7 separate regions of the Homo sapiens genome follow, and all the other regions are reported to be linked to region 4. Evidence: microRNA targets listed by miRTarBase, many of them from high-throughput screens and not tested one by one. Region 4 holds a microRNA gene; each other region holds the end of a gene's coding sequence.

Region 1 (3,000 bases), not on the chromosome of region 4:
GGCAGTCCCCCAGCCTAAGCTGAAGTCTGGACAGAGCAGATGGTAGGGTGGAGGGGATGACACTGAGGGAGGGCTCCTTATGAAGGCAGAGGAGTGGCTGTCTTCCCCCACAAACTTTCTCCTCTGGGAAACAGCCTATTCCCCCAAACAGAGACATCTCTATGTTGGTTTCCTCTGCCAACTTGCCAGACAATATGCAAGTATCCTGTGGGCCACTAACTTTCTGGGTGCTTCACCTTAGAATGAAAGACATCACTGGGGAGGCAGGCCAAGGAGGCCAGGGTACAGGCCAAGACAGCCAGGCATAGGACAGGTATCACCAAGCAGACTTGGGGTTAGGAGGGGCCCAAGAAGGTGCTTGGTGCCAGGAATGTGGGCCAAGGGCCCATACCGTTGAGGAGGGTCCCTATTGCCTGCTGCAGGGAATCGGAAGGCGGAAGGACCTGGAGCGCCTGTGGCAGCGGCACACCTTCCTGCGCTGGGCACCCTGTGAGATAGAGTTGCGCCAGCAGGGGCCCCTGGAATCTTCTTACCAGGCTGATTTCAGGCCAGGCCCAGGACTCAGTGGCCTCCCCCAGCACCTCATCCACTTTGTGCAGGTCCAGCCTTCCCATACCAGGACCACCTACCAGCAGAACTTCTGCTGCCCATCCCAGGGTGGCCACTATGGCAGCTACAAGGTAGGGCCCCAGGCGCCGGTCACTGACGTACTGCCTGACCTCCCAGGGATCCCAAGACCCAAGCTGCTGCAGCACTACCTTCATGCTGGGGTCTCTGAGTGTCTAAACTGGTCCAGAGCATTAAACAAGGACAGCTGACACAGCAGCCTGTCTGTGCTTGCAGCCCACAATGGGATGTAGCCCAAGAGGCTGAAAGGTAGTAGTAGGCTGCCAGGTCCTGTGCCTGTCTCCCATGGCACTTGTGCCCATGGTGTGTTTCTGTGCTGGGCATGGGAGGTGCTGCTCTGGGATCCCTGCCACTAAGTGAGAAAGGGTAAGGCCTGCAGGAGGCTAAGAGTCCAGGAGGATTGCTATAGCCACATCAGGTGGGTTCCAGGGCCCCAAGTACTACTCTGTTCTTGCAGTAAACCCAGCTGTAGAGAGGAAGATTAGAGGGCAGTCCCCAGCCTAAGTTGAAGTCAGGACAGAGCAGGTGGCAGGGTGAAGGGGGTGACACTGAGGGAGGGCTCCTTATGAAGGCAGCGGAGTGACTAACTTCCCCACAACCTTTCTCCTCTGGGAAACAGCCCATTCCCCCAGAGACATCTCTGTGTTGGTTTCCTCTGCCAGCGTGCCAGACAATGTGCAAATATCCTGTGGGCCACTGACTTTCTAGGTGCTTCACCCTAGAATGAAAGGCATCACTGGGGAAGCAGGTCAAGTACTCAGTTTAGCTATGGGGAAAGCAGACCCCAGAGACCAGTACTAGTGGGCGACAAAGGCTGGAAGAAGGAAGAGTTGGCAGCTTTCTCAGGAGGCAGCTGCCTTTGAGGGGTTTGTTGGGTGGCCACACAGTCCTGTCCAAGAGACGGCTGCCCCACAGCTGAGACAGAAAGAGACTGCCCTGGGCCACAGAACCCACTGCACCACCCCTCCCTGTGGGGGTGAGCAGAGACCCTAAGGAGACACTCTGTAACTTGGATCTGGAGGTCTTCCTAACCTTGTGGTATTCTGTTGTTTTCTGAGCACTTCTCTGGTCATCTTATCCTGCCATCCTTTGGTGACATGTGACAGCCCTTCCTTACTGCCCTAGTGCTCTCTAATCCCCAGGACAGTAAGGAGGCGCTGTCATCACATGTTGCCAAAGAATAAGCTGAGGCTCAGATGGAACAGAAACACCAAATCACTTTGGGAACACCGACCAGATCCAAGAGGCTCCTTCTGGACCCTCATCCCTAGGGGCATTGAGACCCCCAAAGGAAGGCAGGGGCAGTGGAAACAAGGGAGTTCACACCAGGGTCCACACACTAGGTTTTAGCAGCACTTTTACTTCCACATCCAAACTCCCTGGGTCCTCACAACAGCCCTGTGAGGTAGGTAGGGTAGGAAGGTTTCAGAGATCCCCATTTATAGATGAGGATGCTGAGGCACAGAGAGGTGAAGTGACTTGTCCAAGGTCATACAACCAGCAGTGTAGAGGGCTCAAAGCCAGCATTCCTCCACTTGAACTCCTGCGCTCCGGCCCTCTGGCAGTTCCCACATCCTCTCTATTCTCTCTGTGTCCCCCACCCTCTCAACTCTCCTGGGTCTGCAGGGACCCTAAAGGCAGCCTGGCAGCTGAGATTTTTCAGGAATGGCAACTGGGGTAGGCCTGGTCAACTCCAGATAGGAACTGACCCTGAAGAGCATGAGGCCAGCTTTGCTTCTCCCCATTTCCCAGTTGGATGGAAGGCCTAGTAGGTCCCAGGGCAAGGATGGAGCTAGGCATGATTCATGAACGAATGGTGATAAAGGTAGGTGTAAGCATATGTGTGTCCTGCACTAAAGACAAAGGCTCCCCTAACCCAAGGCCCCAAGGCAGTGTTTCAAGTGCTCACCCCCATGCCTCTCTCATCCCACAGAGCCACAGTGAGTGTCCTCAGCAGCAAAAGGAGCCATAGAAATAGCTGCCTCTGGCAATGAGCTGCTCCAGTGGACAGCTCCCACCAAGCCTTCAGACCCCATCACGCAGACACAGTGCCTCCACGGCTTGACTGGGGCCCTGGGCCACACCCCCAATAACAAACAGCCGGGGCCCAGCCTGCAGACTAGAGCAGGAGCAGCGGGCAGTGGGCATGGCAGGCAATGCCTCCCAGCGCCGCCGTGCAAGGCTAAAGCTCTCCACAGAGCCCAAAGGACATGGCTGGTTTCCTGCAAGAAGGAGAGAGAAGGCTGTGAGAGGCACAGGCCGTAGGGACTCCAGGCCCTTCTGCTCCCTAAGCCCAGAGAATAGCCCAGTAGTTATCACCCCAGGATGAGCTATCAGGGCCTTGCTCCTCATTGCCTATGTTCATCATTTGTT
Region 2 (3,114 bases), not on the chromosome of region 4:
GTCACATAGAAGGATAGGGAGGTCAGAAGGTCATTAGGTGATTGCTTGAATGAGGACATGGAGGGGTTAGTGCTTCTTAGACTTCTGGTTTGGGCACTGGATAGCTGAGCACCTTCACCTCCTCAAGTATTCTTTGCTGTTATCTAGGCAGGTTTGATCTGTGGGACCATGTGTGTGTGTGTGTGTGTGTGTGTGTGTGTGTGTGTGTGTGTGTGTGTGTGTATGTGTTTGACGACAGTTTCATTTTCAGTAGAGCTGCTAAACGAAGCATTCCTTTGTTCTATCTTGGGATGTGTGACAGGCACTCCAGAGGAAAGAGGAATCCGGAAATGGAAGAAGGGTGTGGGCAAAGGGAACAAATCACTCGACGGCATGGAGTCGTACAATTTGCCATTTGGCATGAACATTATAAAAAAATACAGATGCTTCAGCTACTTACCCATCAGCCCAACCTTTGTGGGCTACACATGGAAAGGCCTCAGGAAGAGCGACAACAGCCGGAGTTCAGATGAAGACTCCCAGGCCACGGGATAGCCTTTGCTGTGCCCTGTGGCCTGGCCGCAGTGAGGCATGTATCTGTAGTTCCTTGCTGAGTAACAAGAAGTAAAATACATGTTTGTATATCTACATTTACATTCTGCGCCCCAGAGCTAAGACAGACTGCGAATCACTTTTCTGCTGTGAGGGTGATGGTGCCTGATGCGGTGTCTCGCCTATCTCCTTATTTAAGCCCTTAACTCCTTGCCCTTTGAGAGTGTCCATTGCTGGCCATGGTCACTAAATTTGAAGTTCCAGTCCTCCCTTTGGAGTGGACATTTAAAATCTGCAGCCATTCCTTGCTTCAGTTCCCTTCCACCACCCAGGGCTGGCTTTCCTATAAGCCACCTCCAGGGTCCAGGGGCTTTCTCTCTCTCTCCGAAGCCCCTGGACCTGTTTCCTTGTCATTTGACCCTCGTCTGTGCCCGCGGAGACCTCCTCTGACCAAGGGGCACTAGTATGCCTTGCGCTATCATGACTGACTGGCCCAGTATGATTCTGTTGTCGCTGATCTCCCGGAGGAGGAGGCTGTTGACCTGAAAACAGTGGCGTGGCTCCCCTGTGCCCAGATCTGGCCATGGGTGAGGCCTGCACAGATGTTGAATGAACATCTGTTTGGGGCATTGGAGGGAAAAGGAAAGGACCCTGAAGCCAATATCTGATTCTCGGCTGCACCTTCTCTTGGCCACCCTGGCCCTGACCGGGCCAGCACGTGCACACTGGCCTCTTTTCATTTCACTAGTGGCCGAGACACCCTCTCTGGCATTTATCACTGTTGGCCGGTGTGATGAGTATAGAGTGCCACCCAAGGCACCAGTCACACAAGCTGATGGGCGTCTTGGCTCTGCCGTCATGTGGATGTTATTGTCGCGCGCGTCTATAATTACAAGGTTTTATTCCTATTTAATGTTATTGACTATAGCAGATTTTGGAAATCAGTGTTTTCCATGTGACCCTCTTTCCTTGCATCCCTATTCCTTGTCCCCCACCCACTCTTCCCCCCATCAAGAAAAGAACCAGCATTTGTAAAGCTGTGGACACCATCAGGGAAGCTTGTTGTAACGGCTTTTGAAGGCCAGTAACCATTGTTGTGGTTGTGTTTTGTATTGCTTGATACCATGAAAGTGTAAATACTGTAATGCCTAATCTATTTATCAAAACTGACTACTGGACCGGAGCCCAGAAACCATGGGTCAAGTTACACGTGAATTTGTTTTGTGAAGAAGGGAAGCTGGGGCAGGTAACACGCAGAGCCGCCACGTGGAACGGTCTGTCCGCCGGTCTGTCCCGCTTGCCGGGCTTCTGTTGCAAGTCTTGGCTTAAGGAGACTTCCTGTGGGTTGCCATGTCGCACGTCCGTTAGATCTTGATTTTACAGGTGAGGGTGGTTGCCAAAGGTGATAAGAAAAGCAGCCAACAGGCTCCCTCTCACTTAAGAGAGTTCTAATTAATAACACTAAATTCTTCCTGAGAAATGACTCCTCTTGGTTTGGTTTGAAGTTTTTCAGTGAAGGAAAAGGCCTGAGATAGGAAGCAGTGCCCTCGCTTCATGAGGTGGCACATCTTCGGTGGCCGTTGGCCTGGTCGAGCTTTGGTCAGCTGCGTGGGTGCCTGTCTCCTGTCTCCAGCGGCAGGGCATGGTTCTTGGCAGCCTGGTGTCCACACGGTGCATTCCTGTCCCCCTCGGCCCCAGGCTGGCTCAGCTCTCCAGTGCTGCGGCGCTGTCTTTGCAGCATTGCCATGTCACCGTAGCCCCCTTCACTCTTGGAAGTTTGGGGCTTCAAGGTTTATTCTGGCAAGAACACCTCGGAGCCACTGCATTGTTTTGCCAAAAACTTACTGCAGATTAAGTAAAGAACTTAGATGCTAAATTACATCTAATTTTGTATGTTTTTTTAAATGTGTCTTTGATGCATACTTTAGAAGCACACTGGCTCGCGGTTTCCATCCCTCTTGCCTTGGGACACTCTTGAGGCTGGCAGCCCTCCTGCAATGAGTTGCTCTCAGTTCCTTCTGTTTGGATTTTGCTCAACATCTCCAGTTTCTCTGCTCTGAAAAATGGGGAAAACTGCTAAACATCCCAGAGATTTGCAATCTTCTAGCTCTCCAGGTGAGCAGAAAGACCAAATATCCAAATAAAAGCCTGAAAGCCATTGGTGATCCAGGGGCACCTTCTCTTCAGCTTGACTGGGCGTCTTCCGCTGCATAACACTCAAGGTGTCTGCTCTAGTCATCCAGAAACCCACTCCCTTCTGAAGCCCCTCCTTGGGCCGGGTTGTATCAGGAGGATTCAACCCCGCTAACATGTGGGGTGCCCTCTGTAGGCCTTCACACAGGGAAGGAAGCCCTACCCTTTCAACTCCTGTTGGAGTGAGAGTTTCCTGTTCTGATTCCACTGTGGCCAACCCAATAATTCTGTCCGAGGAGGGGTAAGGGAATAGGAGGTGGGGAGCAAAGAGGGCAGCCTGACTAGATGCCCCTGCTGAATCTGGTACTTTCTGCACAGCCTTGAGTGATTGGAGTCCCCTAATGACTAATAAACTTGAACATGTAACACACACACACACACACACACACA
Region 3 (3,114 bases), not on the chromosome of region 4:
CAAGCAATTCTCATGCCTCAGCCTCCCAAGTAACTGGGACTACAGGCGTGTACCACTACACCCGGCTAATTTTTTATAATTTCAGTAGAGACGGGGTTTCACCATGTTGGCTAGGCTGGTCTCGAACTCCTGACCTCAGGTGATCCGCCCACCTTGGCCTCCCAAAATGCTGGGATTACAGGTGTGAGCCACTGCGCCCGGCCTATTGTGATATTTCTTTACTTAATAACTAGCAGATGAATCTCTTAACAGTATTCTGTTTTCCTCTAAGCATGCATAAAAAGTGGTCAAATAAGTCCATGATGACTCATCACCTTTTCCCTGCAAGGAGTGTACTGTAGATTACCAAACCTGCAGAAGCCGTCTGTGTGGAGACAGGAGGAGGACAAACCAGGCTTGCTCTGCTTCACACCCAGAGACCTGGAGCCACAGCATGTGGAAATTGCTTTCATGACCTTTTATACCCCCTGCTGATAAAGCAATTAGAAAACTGAAGAGTTTCACGGTGGTGAGATAGAATTTCACAATACTGAGTGAGATATTAGCAATGGACTCTCCGTATGTCCCTATGGTCTACAAGCTTAATATGTATCTTTAAACAAACACATAAAAAAATTCATTAACTGGAGAAACAAGATTGTGGCCATAGTCAACACTCTATAATGTCACCATCTTCACCACTATCTCTGCTTAAAATTCTGCCGTACTATCTTCAGAATAAGGATAATGAATTGGAAATACGACCATTTCTTTTCATTGCCCTTGATGGTTACCTTTTTAAAAAAAAAAAAAAAAAAGTAGGGTCTTACTCTATCATCCAGGCTGGAGTATGGTGGCATGATCAGCCTTGAGCTCCTGGGCTCAAGTGATACTCTCGCCTTAGCCTCCAGAGTAGCTAGGATTATAGGTCAGTGCCACCATGCCTGGCTAACTTAAATTTTTTTTTTGTAGAGACAGGGTCTTGCTATGTTGCCTAAGCTGACAATTACTTTATTTAAAAGCTTTTTTTTCTGGCCAGGGGTGGTGGCTCACACCTGTAATCCCAGCACTTTGGGAGGCTGAGGTGGGTGGATCACCTGAGGTCAGGAGTTTGAGACCAGCCTGGCCAATGTGACAAAACCCTGTCTCTACTAAAAATACAAAAATTAGCCGGGCATGGTGGCACGTGCCTGTAATCCCAGCTGCTCAGGAGGCTGAAACAGGAGAATCGCTTGAACCTGGGAGGTGGGGGTTGCAGTGAGCCGAGAATGTGCCACTGCACTCCAGACTAGGTGACAGAGTGAGACTCTGTCTCAAAAAAACAAAACAAAACTTTTTTTTTTTCTTGAGATACGGAGTCTAGCTCTGTCACCCAGGCTGGAGTGCAGTGGTGCGCTCTCAGCTCACTGCAACCTCTGCCTACCGAGTAGCTGGGATTACAGGCACCCGCCATCATGCCCAGCTAATTTTTGTATTTTTAGTAGAGACGGGGTTTCACCATATTGGCCAGGTTGGTCTTGAACTCCTGACCTCATGTGATCCGCCTGCATCGGCCTCCAAAGTGCTGGGATCAAAGGTGTGAGCCACTGTCGTGCCTGTCCTTTTTTTTTTTTTTTTTGAGACAGAGTGTCACTCTGTCACCCAGGCTGGAGTACAGTGGCATAATCTCGGCTCACTGCAACTTCTGCCTCCCCGGTTCAAGCAATTCTCCTGCCTCAGCCTCCCGAGTAGCTGGGACTACAGGCTCCTGCCACCACGCCCAGCTAGTTTTTTGTACTTTTAGTAAAAACACGTTTCACTGTGTTAGCCAGGATGGTCTCGATCTCCTGACCTCGTGATCCACCCGCCTCGGCCTCCCAAAGTGCTGGGATTACAAGCGTGAGCCAACACGCTCGGCCTGGCTTTTTTTTTTTTTAACATGTTCCATATGGGGCAGGGCTAAATGTTAGGCAGTGCGCCCATAGTCACTGCCAATTACTTTTTTTTTTTTTTTTTTTGAGACGGAGTCTCGCTCTGTTGCCCAGGCTGGAGTGCAGTGGCGCAATCTCAGCTCACTGCAAGCTCTGCCTCCCAGGTTCATGCCATTCTCCTGCCTCAGCCTCCCAAGTAGCTGGGATTACAGGCGCCCGCCACCATGGCTGGCTAATTTTTTTTGTATTTTTAGTAGAGACAGGGTTTCACCATGTTAGCCAGGATGGTCTCGATCTCCTGACTTCACGATCCGCCCCCCTCGGCCTCCCAGTGCTGGGATTACAGGCGTGAGCCACTGCGCCTGGCCAATCACTGCCAATTACTTTTGAACAGAGAACATCATATGTAATTAGAGGAGGCGGGATATTGTTGGTGCAGCTATATCATTCAAAATTGGCAGAAGTCCTGAAGCTGGTGGGGCTAAAAAAAAAATTGGTGGAACGGCGTATGTTGAGACCTGGAATAGCTTCTCTGGAAGGTGCTCTAAGGCAGGGGGTAGAGTAGTACATAGGTAGTCAAATGATGAGGCTGAGGGTGTCTACCAATAACACAACGCCACAGAGCTTCCTTGGCACACTTCCCGCTGCTGCTATGTGGGATCCTGTCTGGCTCGCTTAGGATTCTGCAGGTCACCAGGTGGTGAGGCCTTGCTTGCTGAGATGCTCCGGAGAGAATGCAAGCTCTGCGTCTGCTGCAGGCGCAGGGCGAGCTCCCGCTCACAGGCCTCCTGAACAGTCTCCGTCTTCTTTATGTCCCAGTTCAAGGCAACAGCCAGTGCTTTGGGGTCTTCCTTGGTAACCAACTGCAGCAAGAATAAAAACCCCTGAGAACTGGGCCTTCTGTGCGCCTCTCCTGCTGCTCTCCTGACTCTCTTTTGGGGAGTGCAATGAGGCAGTATCCGTTTATGTTACCTCTTTACACTGAAATGCCGGGTTTCCTTTACCATTAATTGCCACGGGCTTTTTGTTTTTTGAGACGGAGTCTCGCTCTGTCACCCAGGCTGGAGTGCAGTGACACTATCTCGGCTCCCTGCAAGCTCCGCCTCCCGGATTCACGCCATTCTCCTGCCTCAGCCCCCTGAGTAGCTGGGACTACAGGTGCCCACGACCACGCCTGGCTAATTTTTTTGTATTTTTTTTAGTAGAGACGGGGTTTCACCGTGTT
Region 4 (3,114 bases):
CCCAGCGAATGGCCAGGCTCCAGCGAGGCTGGTTGGGCCTCAGCTCCAGTCCCCAGTGAGGCTGGCGAAGGCCTCCCTGCCCTCGATATGGGCACACAAAGCTGCAGCGAATGTCCCCTAATCAGATCTCCTAGTCAGCCGTTAGCGACAGGCGAAGAAACGCAAGGCTGCCGCCATCCGGTCGTGATCATAACCGAGGCCTTGTCTGCAGAGTAACACACCAGGCCCAAACCCACCGCCCTCGGCAGCCGCCCCACGCGGGCCCTTCCTCGGCAGACTTCCCAACCTCTACTTGAGCCGCAGAGGAAAGTGAGACCCCCTAGGCTCTCCTGAAGCCAGCTCTGGGCCCCTCCCCAAGGATGCTTTGGGAAGGAGATAAGGAGGTGAGATAGAATCTGGCAGAGACGGAAGATGAAAAAAAGACCAACGGAAGAAAAGAAAGCAGGAAGGAGCAAAGGAAAGAAGAAAAAAAGAAAGAAGAGATAAAAGAGGAAGGGAAGACAGGGAAAAGAAGGAAGAAAAGAGAGGCGACTCCTAGCAGCGGCCGAGCTTACAGAGAGAAGGGTAAGTGACAAGGCCAGGATCCCAGCCTGCCCTATCCTTCCTAGTCCAGCCTGAGTCTCCACTGGAAGGAGGTTCTTTCCTGAGCTCACACCCGGGACTGGTGTGTGTGTGTGTGTGTGTGTGTGTGTGTGTGTGTGTGTTCCAGCCTTACAAGAGAATGGCAGGAGGTCCCTGGGCAGGCGCAGGCCTCCAGTGGGAGGCTCAGGATGGAAGCGGGCGCCCCTGACCTTGAATGGCCCAAAGCCCAGAATTCCTACCACGCCCCCGGCGTCCGCGAAGGAGCAGCCAACCTAACCCTACCTGCTGTGACCAGGTGGAGGTGTGTGGTGGAAGGGGAAAGCCGGCCGGCTGGCAAAGCGCTGCGGAGAAAGACACGAGGCTCCTGAGCAGGGAAAGCCGAGGTTGCCACCGCAGGCCTGGCACGACCAGGGCCGTGATGCCCCGCCCGGCCCGACCCCCGCGCGCAGAGGTACCTGGAGACGATTTCAACTGAAGTAATGAAGGCAGTGTCGTGCTGTCGAGAGAAAGGTGGATCCCAACAACAGGAAACTACCTAAATCACCGACCAGTTCTGGTGCTGCCCGCGAAGGGCTGCCTCGCCCGCCGCCGCCGCCGCCTCCGCCGCTGCCGCCGCCGCCAAGGAGAGAACCCTGCCATCGCGCCTGGCCCGGCCCAGCCCAGCCCCTAGGCAACCTGCGCCCGCCAGTGCAACAGAGTGCCCCAGGCGGCCGCAAATGCGTCAAGGAAGGGGAAGCCACAGGCCCCAGTAAGGTATTCCTGGGAGGGAGAGGGAGGAAAAGAGAGGGAGGAAAGGCAGGGAGAGAGGAATAAAGGCGGGGAGCAGGCGAGACGAGAGCAGCTCCGAGAAGCAGTGTGCGCGCCGCTTTCCCAAATCTTGCAGCCCAGCGAGCCGGCGCCAAGAGGCGGTAGCCGTGGAAGGCTCGAAAGCGCCAGGGACGGTACAGATCCCGGCTCCCTGTCTGGCCCCGGCCTCCCGCCTCTCGCTCTCCCCCTCTCCCTCCTAGCTGCCCGCCCGCCGGGGCGCGCGCTCCTGCGCCCCCTCCCCTTAGCCCCCGCCCCCCCCACTCTGGCAAGCAGGAAACGCGTGGCCCTAAGGAGTGCCGCCAGGTGGGGGAGGCCGTACTGGGGGAGGGGGAGGCCCCCATGCAGTCCAGCCCGGGTCCACCTAACCGCTGCCTCCAGCGGCTAGAGATGCGCTGTGGGCCAGGCCTGCTCCCCGATTCAGATTGAGGGTCATCTGTGACCCAGACACCCGCAAAATAACCGGCCTCTGCAAGCCTCCCTGGGGCTCCCGAAAGAAATCCTGTTTGGCTTCCTCTGTCTATGTAGCTCCCCTCTCAACTGAAATCACTGGTCCAAGACAGCCACAATCCAGATATACTAGCAAGCCATAAAACTGAACAAAAGCCGACAAACCTTACGGCACCAGGGCTATAGGGCCCAGACAAATTACGACCGTCTAGGTAATATTTAAATAGATGCCTAAAGTAATTGCAGGGGCTCGGGTTAGTCCTCCTGTTGTAAAAGTGGTGAACGGGATAAAGTGGAAGGTGAAGATAAGAAGTCAAAAAAGAGGTAAAATTAAAAAGCTTCATTCCACAGCTTTTATTCTATAAGAACATAAACATCGTCTTTTTCCACGCACAGCAGCAATACAATATTAATTTATTCTGATTTAAGATTAGAAGTAAATAGAGCTAGAACTAACATTTATAATAACGATAGAATGCATTTGCTTAAAACAAGATTGGCAATTCTTCATAATAATAGACATTTATACAGATTTGTATTTATAGTTTTTTTCTTTTTCTGCATCTACAGGTTTGACCCTTTTATGCATGTAACTTCACAGTATAAAGGAAATCCAAACAATGTCTCCCTTCTCTAGTTTATTCCGCTTACCCCAGTCCTCCTAGGCTTCTGTGAATTTCAGAAAGCAAAAACAAACAAAAAAAAAACTTTTTGTTCAAGGCGATTTAAAAAAACAACTTCACAAGATAGGGAGAATTGTGGTGTGCTTGTCACATGTTACCAGTGGTAACAATTTTAATGACAAAAAAATCCACTAATTCCAAATGCATAAACAAAACTACATTATTTATCTACAGCCAGAAGGATATGGAAATTTAGAGGTAAATGAAACATTTTAGTCAGGCAATGTAAGACCTTACAGAAACTGGAAGAGAAGTCCCCTTCTCTTGGTAATTCTTTTTTTTTCTTTTTAAAGCTGGGATATCTTACAGAGGAAGGAAAAATTAACCTTTTTTACTTTCTTTCTCACTTTTTAAATCAGCCAAAGTCAAGCCCGTTTGCCAACCTGCATGTCCATGCCTGTAAGCCCTTCTCTTGGCCAAGGAAGAAAGGAAGAAAGAAAAAAGAAACCCAGGGGCCTGTATCCCCTGATTAAACACAGCACAGCACTCCAGGCAGACATGCCCGGTGGCGGCTCCTTTGCACCATTGACCTCAGGCCAGACACCTCAGCGCCAACAATGGGACCTCGGCCTTCCGGCTAGGTTTGCCCCAGGCT
Region 5 (3,098 bases), not on the chromosome of region 4:
GCTTTCACGGCAACAACAAAAAATACAAAACTGAATAATTGGGAAGATATAATATGATCCTTTATAGAAAGACTTTATGTTATCAGTTGTAAGTTTCGTTCCAAATTATTCAATAAGAGAACTTGATAAGACAATTTTATTATTAAAATTTTTTTTAATGATCCATTTATTTACAATTAAAAAAACTTTTAGGTTCAGGGGTATATGTGAAGGTTTGTTATATAGGGAAACTCTTGTCACGGGTTTGTTGTACAGAGTACTTCATCACCAATAGGTACTTTTTCTGCTCCTCTCCCTCTTCCCATCCTCCACCCTCAAGTAGACCCTAGTGTCTGTTCCCTTCATTGTGTTCATGAGTTCTCATCATTTAGCTCCCACTCACAACTGAGAACCTGTGGTATTTGGTTTTCTGTTCCTGAATTAGTTTGCTAAGGATAATAGCCTCCAGCTCTATCCATGTTCCTGAGACATGATCTCATTGTTTCTTATGGCTGCATACTATTCCATGGTGTATGTGTACCATATTTTCTTTATCCAATCTGTTACTGATGGGCACTTAGGTTGATTCTGTATCTTTGCTATTGTGAATAGTGCTGCAGTGGACATTTGCATGCATGTGTCTTTATGGTAGAATGATTTATATTCCTCTGGGTATGTACCCAGTAATGGGATTGCTGGGTGGAATGGCAGTTCTGCTTTTAGCACTATGAGGAGTTGCCACACTGCTTTCCACAGTGGTTGAACTAATTTACACTCCCATCAATAGTGTATAAATGTTCCCTTTTCTCCACAACCTTACTAGCTGTTATTTTTTGACTTTTTAGAAAGAGGCATTTTGACTGGTGTGAGATGGTGTCTCATTGTAGTTTTAATTTGCATGTCTCTAACGATCAGTGATATTGAGCTTTTAAAACATGCTTGTTGGCCGCATGTGTATCTTCTTTTGGAAAGTGTCTTTTCATCCGGGCATGGTGGCTGATGCCTGTAATCCCAGCACTTTGGGAGGCCGAGGTGGGTGGATCACCTGAGGTCGGGAGTTCAAGACCAGCCTGACCAATGTGGAGAAACCCCGTCTCTACTAAAATACAAAATCAGTCAGGTGGTGCATGCCTGTAATCCCAGCCACCTGGGAGGCTGAGGCAGGAGAATTGCTTGAACCCGGGAGGCAGAGGTTGTGGTGAGCCAAGATCACGCCATTGCACTCTGGCCTGGGCAACAAGAGTGAAACTCCATCTTAAAAAAAAAAAGTGTCTTTCATGTCCTTTGCCCACTTTTTAATGGGGTTATTTCTTTTTGTCTTGTAAATTTGTTTAAGTTCCCTATAGAAGCTGGCTATTAGACCTTTGTCAGATGCATAGTGTGCAAATATTTTCTCCCATTTTGTAGGTTGTCTGTTTACTCTGTTGATTGTTTCTTTTGCTGTGCAGAATCTCTTAAGTTTAATTAGATCCCATTTGTCAAATTTTGCTTTTGTTGCTATTGCTTTTGTCTTTATCATGAAATCTTTGCCTGTTCCTATGTCCAGGATGGTATTGCCTAGGTTGTCTTCCAGAGTCTTCATAGTTTTTGATTTTACATTAAGTCTTTAATTGATCTTGAGTTGATTTTTGTATATGGTGTAAGGAAGAGGTCTAGCTTCAATCTTCTATCCCAGTTATCCCAGCACCATTTATAAAATAGGGAGTCTTTTTCCCATTGCTTGTTTTTATCGACGATCAGATGGTCATAGGAGTGTGGTCTTATTCTGTGCTCTTCGTTCTGTTCCATTGGTCTATGTGGCTTTTTTTTTGGTACCAGTACCATGCTGTTTTGGTTACTGAAGCCCTGTAATATAGTTTGAAGTGGGGTAACGTGATGCCTTCAGCTTTGTTCTTTTTGCTTAGGATTGCCTTGGCTATTTGGGCTCTTTTTTGGTTCTGTATGAATTTTAAAATAGTTTTATCTAGTTCTGTGAAGAATGTCATTGGTGGTTTGATAGGAATAACATTGAACCTGTAAACTGCTTTGGGCAGTATGGTCATTTTAATGATATTGACTGTTTCTACACAGGAGCATGGGATGTTTTTCCATTTGTTTGTGTCATCTCCAATCTCTTTGAGCAGTGTTTCGTAATTCTCATTGTAGAACTCTCTCACCTCCCTGATTAGCTGTATTCCTAGGTATTTTATTCTTTTAGTGGCAATTGTGAATGAGATTGCCTTCCTGATTTGGCTCTTGGCTTGGCTATTGCTGGTGTATAGGAATACTAGTAATTTTCATATACTAATTTTGTATTCTGAAACATCTCTGAAATTGTTTATCAGCAGAAGGAGCTTCTGGGCTGAGACTAGGGGGTTTTCTAGATATAGAATCAATGTTGTGTGCAAACAGGGATAGTTTGACTTCCTCTTTGCCTATTTAGATACCCTTTATTTTTTTCTGCTTCCTGACTGCTCTGACCAGGACTTCCAATACTTTGTTGAATAGGAGTGGTGAGAGAGGGAATCCTTGTCTTGTGCTTGTTTTCAAGGGGAATGCTTCTTTTGCGCATTCCATATAATGTTGTCTGTGGGTTTGTCATAAATGGCTCTTATTATTTTGGGATATGTTCCTCAATACCTAGCTTATTGAGAATTTTTAACATGAAGGGGTGTTGAATTTTATTGAAAGCTGAAAAGACGGTTTTAAAATGGCAATGATAAATTTTGGAGAATTGTGATGTGGAGTTTCCACAGGAGCAGTCACAGATTAGTGGGACCACAGGCACATTGCGTAGCTAGCTGCCAGAGGATCTGAAGGGAGGAGATAAGAATGGCTAAATAAACATTATAATGTTCTTGCTTGTTTCCTGAATTGCAAAAATGTTTCTGAAATTCTTCTCAAAGATGTCCTGTACTTGAATTCCCAGTCTGGTGAATTTATCTTCCTAAAAAAGCAAAGAAAAAAACAATATAGCAGTTATGCAATGAGCTGAGACACCCAGTGTTGCAGATAATCTGGGGCCTCATTTTAGGTTATCCCAAATGTTAAGTGAGAATTAATCTACTTGAGTTGCTTATGTTCCTTGATAATTTAATTATTTATCTTTATCTGGAAGACAAGTCAAAATACTACTACAC
Region 6 (3,114 bases), not on the chromosome of region 4:
TTTGAGTGCTACCACTGTGAGGTGAGTGTTGGGGTTCAGCGGTGCTGGAGAAGAAGTGGAAATGGGGAGAGGGGAGGAGTCAAGTCCTGCAACAACCAGACATCTATGGGAGAGGTGTAGGGCATGGGAAACCAGAAAGATATTGTGACCTATCTTCAGTCTCTTTTTTGTCCTCCAGCCACTCTCTCTGGTCCAAGTAGCTTAGTCCTTTCTGAATCTGACTCTCCCAGAGTCAGGACTTTCTAAGACTAGGGACTCTGGTCAAACTTCTTGAAAGACAGGCTTGTGTCATTATTTCTGCTGCAGCAGTGACACCTGGTGTCCAGCTGAGGTATTAGTATTTTCTCAGATTGCTCTTCCATCCCTTCCATCCTTCCCTTCCCACCCCATCCCTTTCTTCCAGTTATTAGGAGTCAGGTGTTGAGCAGGGCAGACTCCTAAGATACCCTCAGTGTCCAAGGTGCCTAGGCTGAGGTGAACTAGGTGCCTTCTTCCCTAGGACTGCCGGATGCAGCTGAGTGATGAGGAAGGCTGCTGCTGTTTCCCTCTGGATGGGCACTTGCTCTGCCATGGTTGCCACATGCAGCGGCTCAATGCCCGACAACCCCCTGCCAACTATATCTGAGCTGCAATCACTGCTGCTGCTGTCACCCTGCAGACAAACTGCTGTGGCCAGTGGGCCCCTCTGAGGCCAGCCAAGGCAAAGAATGCACTCTGCAGGCCTGGCAGAAGAGTCCTCTGGGGAGGACCCCAAGGGCCGGAGACCCAAAGATCATGATATTCCAAATGGATTGTGGAAGAGAAACCTTATATTTACCAGGGTGGGGGCGACTGGCCTTTTTCCCATGTGTGCAGTCTGAGCTTAGGCACACACAGGAGGGTTCCAGGACTTTCTGAACATCTGATTCTGTATCTTCAGTATATATATTTTGTTTGTTTTAGAGATGGGATCTCACCATGTTGCCCAGGCTAGTCTTGAACTCCTGGGCTCGAATGATCCTCCCACCTTGGCCTCCCAAAGTGCTGGGATTATAGGCGTAAGCCACTGTGTCTGGCCTAGTGTATGATTATGCATGAGTCACGCAATGTTCTGGTCCTGGATTCCAGGAGTAGAGGACCTAGCTTTAAATCAATTAGTTTCAGCTAAACTGACTAGAACCAAATCAAAGTGTAATTCTCCCTCCAGCTCCCCCAAACCCCAGAGTTTTGGGGTTGTGGTTGATGCAGTGTGGGATGTCCCTGAGAGGTAGCAAGTCTAGGGTGGTGAGTTCCTGCTAGGCAACCAAATTTAAGCTCCTCACTTTTTGTGACACATGGTGTCAGATATGGGGTCCCGCACCTATATCTGGATGAAGAGGTAGAAACTCTGGACCTCATTAATGAGTTATTTCTTGGCCTTCTTCTAAGGACTAGGAGAGCTCCTTATCTGTCTGAGAATGGGGACCAGCTCTGAGTGGGGTTGCTGCCTGTATTCCCTGTTTCTCAGGAACTTACATGGGTCTGGGGAGGCTAGGTAGGTGATTGTACGTGGTTGCTCTTCTCCTTGGCTGGGGGAGGTAATGAGCAGATCTCTGTGGGTGTGGAGCTTGTTGGGGGGATGTCTAGGAAGCTTCAGCTTAGCCACATTCCCAAGTTTAGGTGCACTGAGCCATATAGCCCAGTGTATGCATGTGTGGGTGTGTTCATGCACACACACACTCTCTCTCTTGTCTCTCTGTCTCTCTCTCACTCTTTCTTACTCTCTTCTCAGGTCACTTGTACACTTGGTTTCCTAGTAGAAGCTCACTTGCCACCTCTCAGAGGGGTCCCGGATTGCATCCATCACAATCCCAAAACTAGAGTTGGGGGGAACTGGAGGGAGCAAAACACTGATTTGATACTAGTCAGTTTGCTTGAAACTAGTTCACCTAAAGCTAGATCTCTTAAAACCAATTTACTGAAAACTTGTTTGCTTAAAGTTAATGACTTAATGACTAATTTGCCAAAAGCTCAATTCCTATTTTGGTGTGTTTATATCCATTTAGGTGTCCTATTCTTTTTTGTCATGCTTTGGATATTTCAAGGATTTATATCTATTCATCCAAGAGTACTTCTGAGCTATTATCAGCAACATAAATTTATCAAATTTGCAGCACTTTGTAAATGATGAGATTGCTTCCTACCTTTATGGATGTCTTTTTCTATGTTATCTACCATTCAAAAACTTTTTTAAAAAGTTTAAAGTTTCTAGCAATAAATACAATTGGTACAGACATTTTGTGTATCATTTTTTTGTTTCTTAATCCAATATTCCTTTACAAATTAAATGCCTTGAAAAATATAATGGAGTTCAATGTGATTTTGATGCTTTGGTCTAACTTCTACATTCCTACTGTTAAAAAGGCCAGTATATCTTAAACAAATGAATAGGCATGAGGCATATTCAGTTGACTTACAATGAAAAGTTATACAGACAACAGTAATAACTAAAAGGGTGAATCTGCTAAATCCTTTTGAAATGCTGCAGATTTGATAAATATTTATTTTAGACTAATTGGTTTTAGGTGAATTGGTTTTAGGCAAATTAATTTAGTAATCTTTGATCTTTAGTCTTCATTTTCTGTCACTCAGTGAGTTTCTTACTGGAAATGATGACTCCTGACAACAGAATTTCCACATTTGGGGGCTATTCTAAGGTGACTATGCCAGCCAACCTGGGAAATACATAAAAGAGATCTCTGAGTGAGAGGGAAAGAGGTCAGATTTATACAACTGAGCGCCAGAGGGGAAAATGCACCTTGTTGGAGTGAGAAATGTTCTGAAACTGAATTACTTCTTGTACAGCTGAGATAGCTTCTTCTGAACTATTATTAAATAAGTGAATACAAAGGCCCTATGATGGGAAATCCAGACAAGCTTGTGTAACTTTACATCCATCCCCTCAGGGATATTTTTTTTTTTTTTTTTTTTTTTGAGACAGAGTCTCACTCTGTCGCCCAGGCTGGAGTGCAGTGGCGCTATCTCGGCTCACTGCAAGCTCCGCCTCCCGGATTCACACCATTCTCCTGCCTCAGCCTCCCAAGTAGCTGGGACTACAGGCGCCCGCCACCACACCCGGCTAATTTTTGTATTTTT
Region 7 (3,000 bases), not on the chromosome of region 4:
ACTCAGGAGGCTAAGACAGGAGAATCACTTGAACCCAGAAGGCAGAGGTTGCAGTGAGCCGAGATCGTGCCATTACACTCCAGCCTTGGGTAACAAGAGCAAAACTCTGTCTCAAAAAAAAAAAAAAAAAAAAAAGAGAAACAAACAAACAAAAACATTTGAAGCAGTCTGATATTTTCAACTACACAGGGAGAATAACAGTACTTACTTTATATGGTGATAGTAAAGATAGAATGAGCTAAAAACAAAATAAAACAAAACCAGCTTAGAGTGGTGCCAGGCATGGTTGTTAGTGGCTAGTATTATCATTCTTGTTGTTTTTTTTATCAGTGCTTGATATAAATGAGAAAGCACTAAGTGAATGGGTACTTCAGCATAAAAGAGTTGTTGAAGACATGTGGAGATTTAGTTTTGAATAAATTAATAATAATAAGTTTCCTTAACTACAACTCAGATTCCATGCTGGTTTCCATTGTGGGGATGGCACTATACACAGGATACGTCTTCATGCCCCAGCACATCATGGCGATATTGCACTACTTTGAAATCGTACAATGACCAAGATGCGACCAGGATCAGAGGTTCCTTGGGGAAGACCCACCCTACGAAGTTGGAATGAGACCATCAGATGTGATAAGAAACTCTTCTAGATGTCAACATAACCAACCTTATAAAGACTAAAATTCATGAGTAGAACAGGAAAATCATCCTGACTCATGTGTTGTGTTCTTTATTTTTAATTTTCAAAGAGGCTCTTGTATAGCAGTTTTTGTCTATTTTAACATTGTAGTCATTTGTACTTTGATATCAGTATTTTCTTAACCTTTGTGACTGTTTCAATATTACCCCCGTGAAAGCTTTTCTTAATGTAACTTTGAGTACATTTTAATTGCCTTCTATTTTTAAAACTCAAAATCATTAGTTGGGCTTTACTGTTCTTGCTATTGTATGGCATATACATCTGCCTGGATATATTTCTACTCTTGACCAAAGTTTTGTAAAGAACAATATAAGATTTCGGGTAGGGGTATGGGGAGGGAAGATATTTTATTGAGAACTACTTAACAAAAGATTTATCTGTAAGCTTGAACTCAGGAGTACAGTTTTAGCTATCTAGACTCTAACAGCTTTTGCTTTAAAATTATTAAAGTGTTTCTTAATGAAAAAGAAAAGATCTTGCTAAAGTTAAAATAAGGAACATTTCACCTTTTAAATATTTAATTCTTATGTGGACTTATTTCCAGAAAACTTTGGTGATAATTCTTGAGACAAAAGGTGGTTAAGTAGCATTATTATGTAATGCTTATATACCATAGAGTTTTTAATAGAAGAGAAATCCATTTCCTCCGAGGGTCACTATTAACAATGTACTTCCTTAAATTTAGTTTAATGATTGTAATGGGTGCTGCATTTGCACATTGCATTAAGTTATGATGAGACGAATTGTTGTTAAAAATTATAGCAAAAAGAAATGTAAACTTGGTTAAAATCCTTTCACTCTTTGTATTGTTTTTTTTAAGGTTTTTATTCCTTAAATGTAAAATGACTACCTAATTTTTTGATGTAAATACATTAAATTCAAAGAGAAAAAAAATCAGCTGATGTAGCAGTATATCTTTTCCTTGATGGTTAAATATTGATCTAGTATTTATATTGCTGAATTATTTTCTGTGGAGGACCAGATAAGCAGTAAGTATGTCTTATCCTATATGTTTTGCAACATAAAAATATTGCTAATTGAAAAGAATTAGGCAATTATGTGTGTTGCTGGGTTGTTTTTTTGTTTTTTTTTTTTTGAGACGGAGTCTTGCCCTGTCGCCCAGGATGGAGTGCAACAGCATGATCTCGGTTCACTGCAACCTCCATCTCCTGGGATCAAGTGATTCTCCTGCCTCAGCCTCCTGAATAGCTGGGATTACAGGCACCTGCCACCATGCCTGGCTAATTTTTTGTATCTGTAGTAGAGACGGGGTTTCACTGTGTTGGCCAGGATGGTCTCAAACTCCTGACCTCCTGATCCACCTGCCTCGGCCTCCCAAAGTGCTGGGTTTACAGGCGTGAGCCACCGCGCCCGGCCAAAATTGAGGTATTTTTTGCCCTACGTTTTAAGGACTAGACTTTTGAAGTATTTTATAGTCTAGAGGTCTCAAGTAATATATATGTGTTTAATATTTTTAGAGCCAATTGATACCACAATTAGATAGGAGTAGTGAGAATAATATGGAATTACTTGGTTTGAAGTAGTTAAAAATTGGATATGGTTATATCTGAGCTGTAGTCATATTATCTCAAGAAAAATAATACGAGGATTTAACATAAGATTTGTTCTATTAATGCCCAAATTTGGCTTTCCTCTACTATCCCCCATAGAGAACCACTAACAAGTGGATGTCTAATATTCCTCTGGTGAGTTGAAGGCAGGAGAAGTTGAGAATCATTAGTTTCAATGAGTATCCAGGTGACCTATCCTGGCCCTCTACTCAGAAACCGGCAATTTGTCTTCACTCTGAGATTCATTAAATTGCTGTTGTATAACTGATGGTTATTATGAACACTGACCTGTGAGACATATGGAAGATAAAGTTTGGTCTTACAGGAAATCTTGAGGAGAGTCAAAAGAGAAATGGGAGATGTCTCTTGAGAGGTGATCAGAGAAGTTTATGCTCACTGTCTGATGCAAATGTCTGGTCTATTTGTTAGTAAATAACAGGGAAATCATTTTCACTTTTTGTTAAAAATAAGGTATTTACAAGCATACCTTGTAGTTATTGTGGGTTCAGTTTCAGACCACTGCAATAAAGTGAATATCTCAATAAAGTGAGTCACATGAAGTTTTTTGGTTTTCCCCTGCATATAAAAGTTACATTTACACCATCCTGTAGTCTATTAAGTGTGCAGTAGCATTATGGCTAAAAAAAAAAAACACCCAATATACCTATCTTAATTAAAGAATTATTTATTGCTGAAAAAAGCTAATGATTATTTGAGCCTTCAACAAGT

What was found. The annotated mature microRNA hsa-miR-196b-5p reads UAGGUAGUUUCCUGUUGUUGGG and lies in region 4 at 1,099-1,120, opposite strand. An mRNA with a match to its seed (bases 2 to 7 or 8) in the 3' UTR can be bound and repressed. Matches are read on the target gene's strand: a 7mer-m8 pairs with bases 2 to 8, a 7mer-A1 pairs with bases 2 to 7 and ends in A, and an 8mer does both.
Region 1: miRTarBase lists KLHDC8B as a target of hsa-miR-196b-5p. Seed matches in the 3' UTR shown: 7mer-A1 at 2,034-2,040.
Region 2: miRTarBase lists SLC23A2 as a target of hsa-miR-196b-5p. The part of its 3' UTR that is shown has no 7-base or 8-base seed match.
Region 3: miRTarBase lists DFFA as a target of hsa-miR-196b-5p. Seed matches in the 3' UTR shown: 8mer at 2,459-2,466.
Region 5: miRTarBase lists SP100 as a target of hsa-miR-196b-5p. The part of its 3' UTR that is shown has no 7-base or 8-base seed match.
Region 6: miRTarBase lists AJUBA as a target of hsa-miR-196b-5p. The part of its 3' UTR that is shown has no 7-base or 8-base seed match.
Region 7: the mRNA of SPTSSA is a reported target of hsa-miR-196b-5p. Seed matches in the 3' UTR shown: 8mer at 1,546-1,553.

Annotation. Positions count from the first base shown.
Region 1 is chr3:49,175,454-49,178,453 of GRCh38, reverse strand. KLHDC8B (kelch domain containing 8B) reads right to left here. Exons shown (of 6, transcript NM_173546.3): 6 at 1,968-2,849. The coding sequence ends at 2,653. CIMIP7 (ciliary microtubule inner protein 7) reads left to right here. Exons shown (of 4, transcript NM_001080528.3): 4 at 402-820. The coding sequence ends at 818. Among named protein-coding and RNA genes, the nearest start is that of KLHDC8B, 5.4 kb to the right of the region's middle.
Region 2 is chr20:4,854,392-4,857,505 of GRCh38, reverse strand. It overlaps SLC23A2 (solute carrier family 23 member 2), which reads left to right. Exons shown (of 17, transcript NM_005116.6): 17 at 302-3,114. The coding sequence ends at 534. Among named protein-coding and RNA genes, the nearest start is that of RASSF2, 32 kb to the right of the region's middle.
Region 3 is chr1:10,458,951-10,462,064 of GRCh38, forward strand. It overlaps DFFA (DNA fragmentation factor subunit alpha), which reads right to left. Exons shown (of 6, transcript NM_004401.3): 6 at 1-2,752. The coding sequence ends at 2,540. Among named protein-coding and RNA genes, the nearest start is that of CORT, 10 kb to the left of the region's middle.
Region 4 is chr7:27,168,430-27,171,543 of GRCh38, forward strand. It overlaps MIR196B (microRNA 196b), which reads right to left and starts at 1,134; the gene lies at 1,051-1,134. All of the region lies in intron 1 of HOXA10-HOXA9 (HOXA10-HOXA9 readthrough), which reads right to left. It overlaps HOXA10 (homeobox A10), which reads right to left. Exons shown (of 2, transcript NM_018951.4): 2 at 2,176-3,114. It overlaps HOXA10-AS (HOXA10 antisense RNA), which reads left to right and starts at 470. Exons shown (of 3, transcript NR_046609.1): 1 at 470-564; 2 at 878-1,335; 3 at 2,879-3,114. RefSeq lists enhancers at 155-745, 746-1,336, 3,091-3,114.
Region 5 is chr2:230,542,643-230,545,740 of GRCh38, reverse strand. SP100 (SP100 nuclear antigen) reads right to left here. Exons shown (of 29, transcript NM_001080391.2): 29 at 135-2,905. The coding sequence ends at 2,795. Among named protein-coding and RNA genes, the nearest start is that of SP100, 130 kb to the right of the region's middle.
Region 6 is chr14:22,970,954-22,974,067 of GRCh38, reverse strand. AJUBA (ajuba LIM protein) reads left to right here. Exons shown (of 8, transcript NM_032876.6): 7 at 1-21; 8 at 500-2,891. The coding sequence ends at 625. Among named protein-coding and RNA genes, the nearest start is that of AJUBA, 10 kb to the left of the region's middle.
Region 7 is chr14:34,432,759-34,435,758 of GRCh38, reverse strand. It overlaps SPTSSA (serine palmitoyltransferase small subunit A), which reads left to right. Exons shown (of 2, transcript NM_138288.4): 2 at 455-2,971. The coding sequence ends at 558. Among named protein-coding and RNA genes, the nearest start is that of SPTSSA, 28 kb to the left of the region's middle.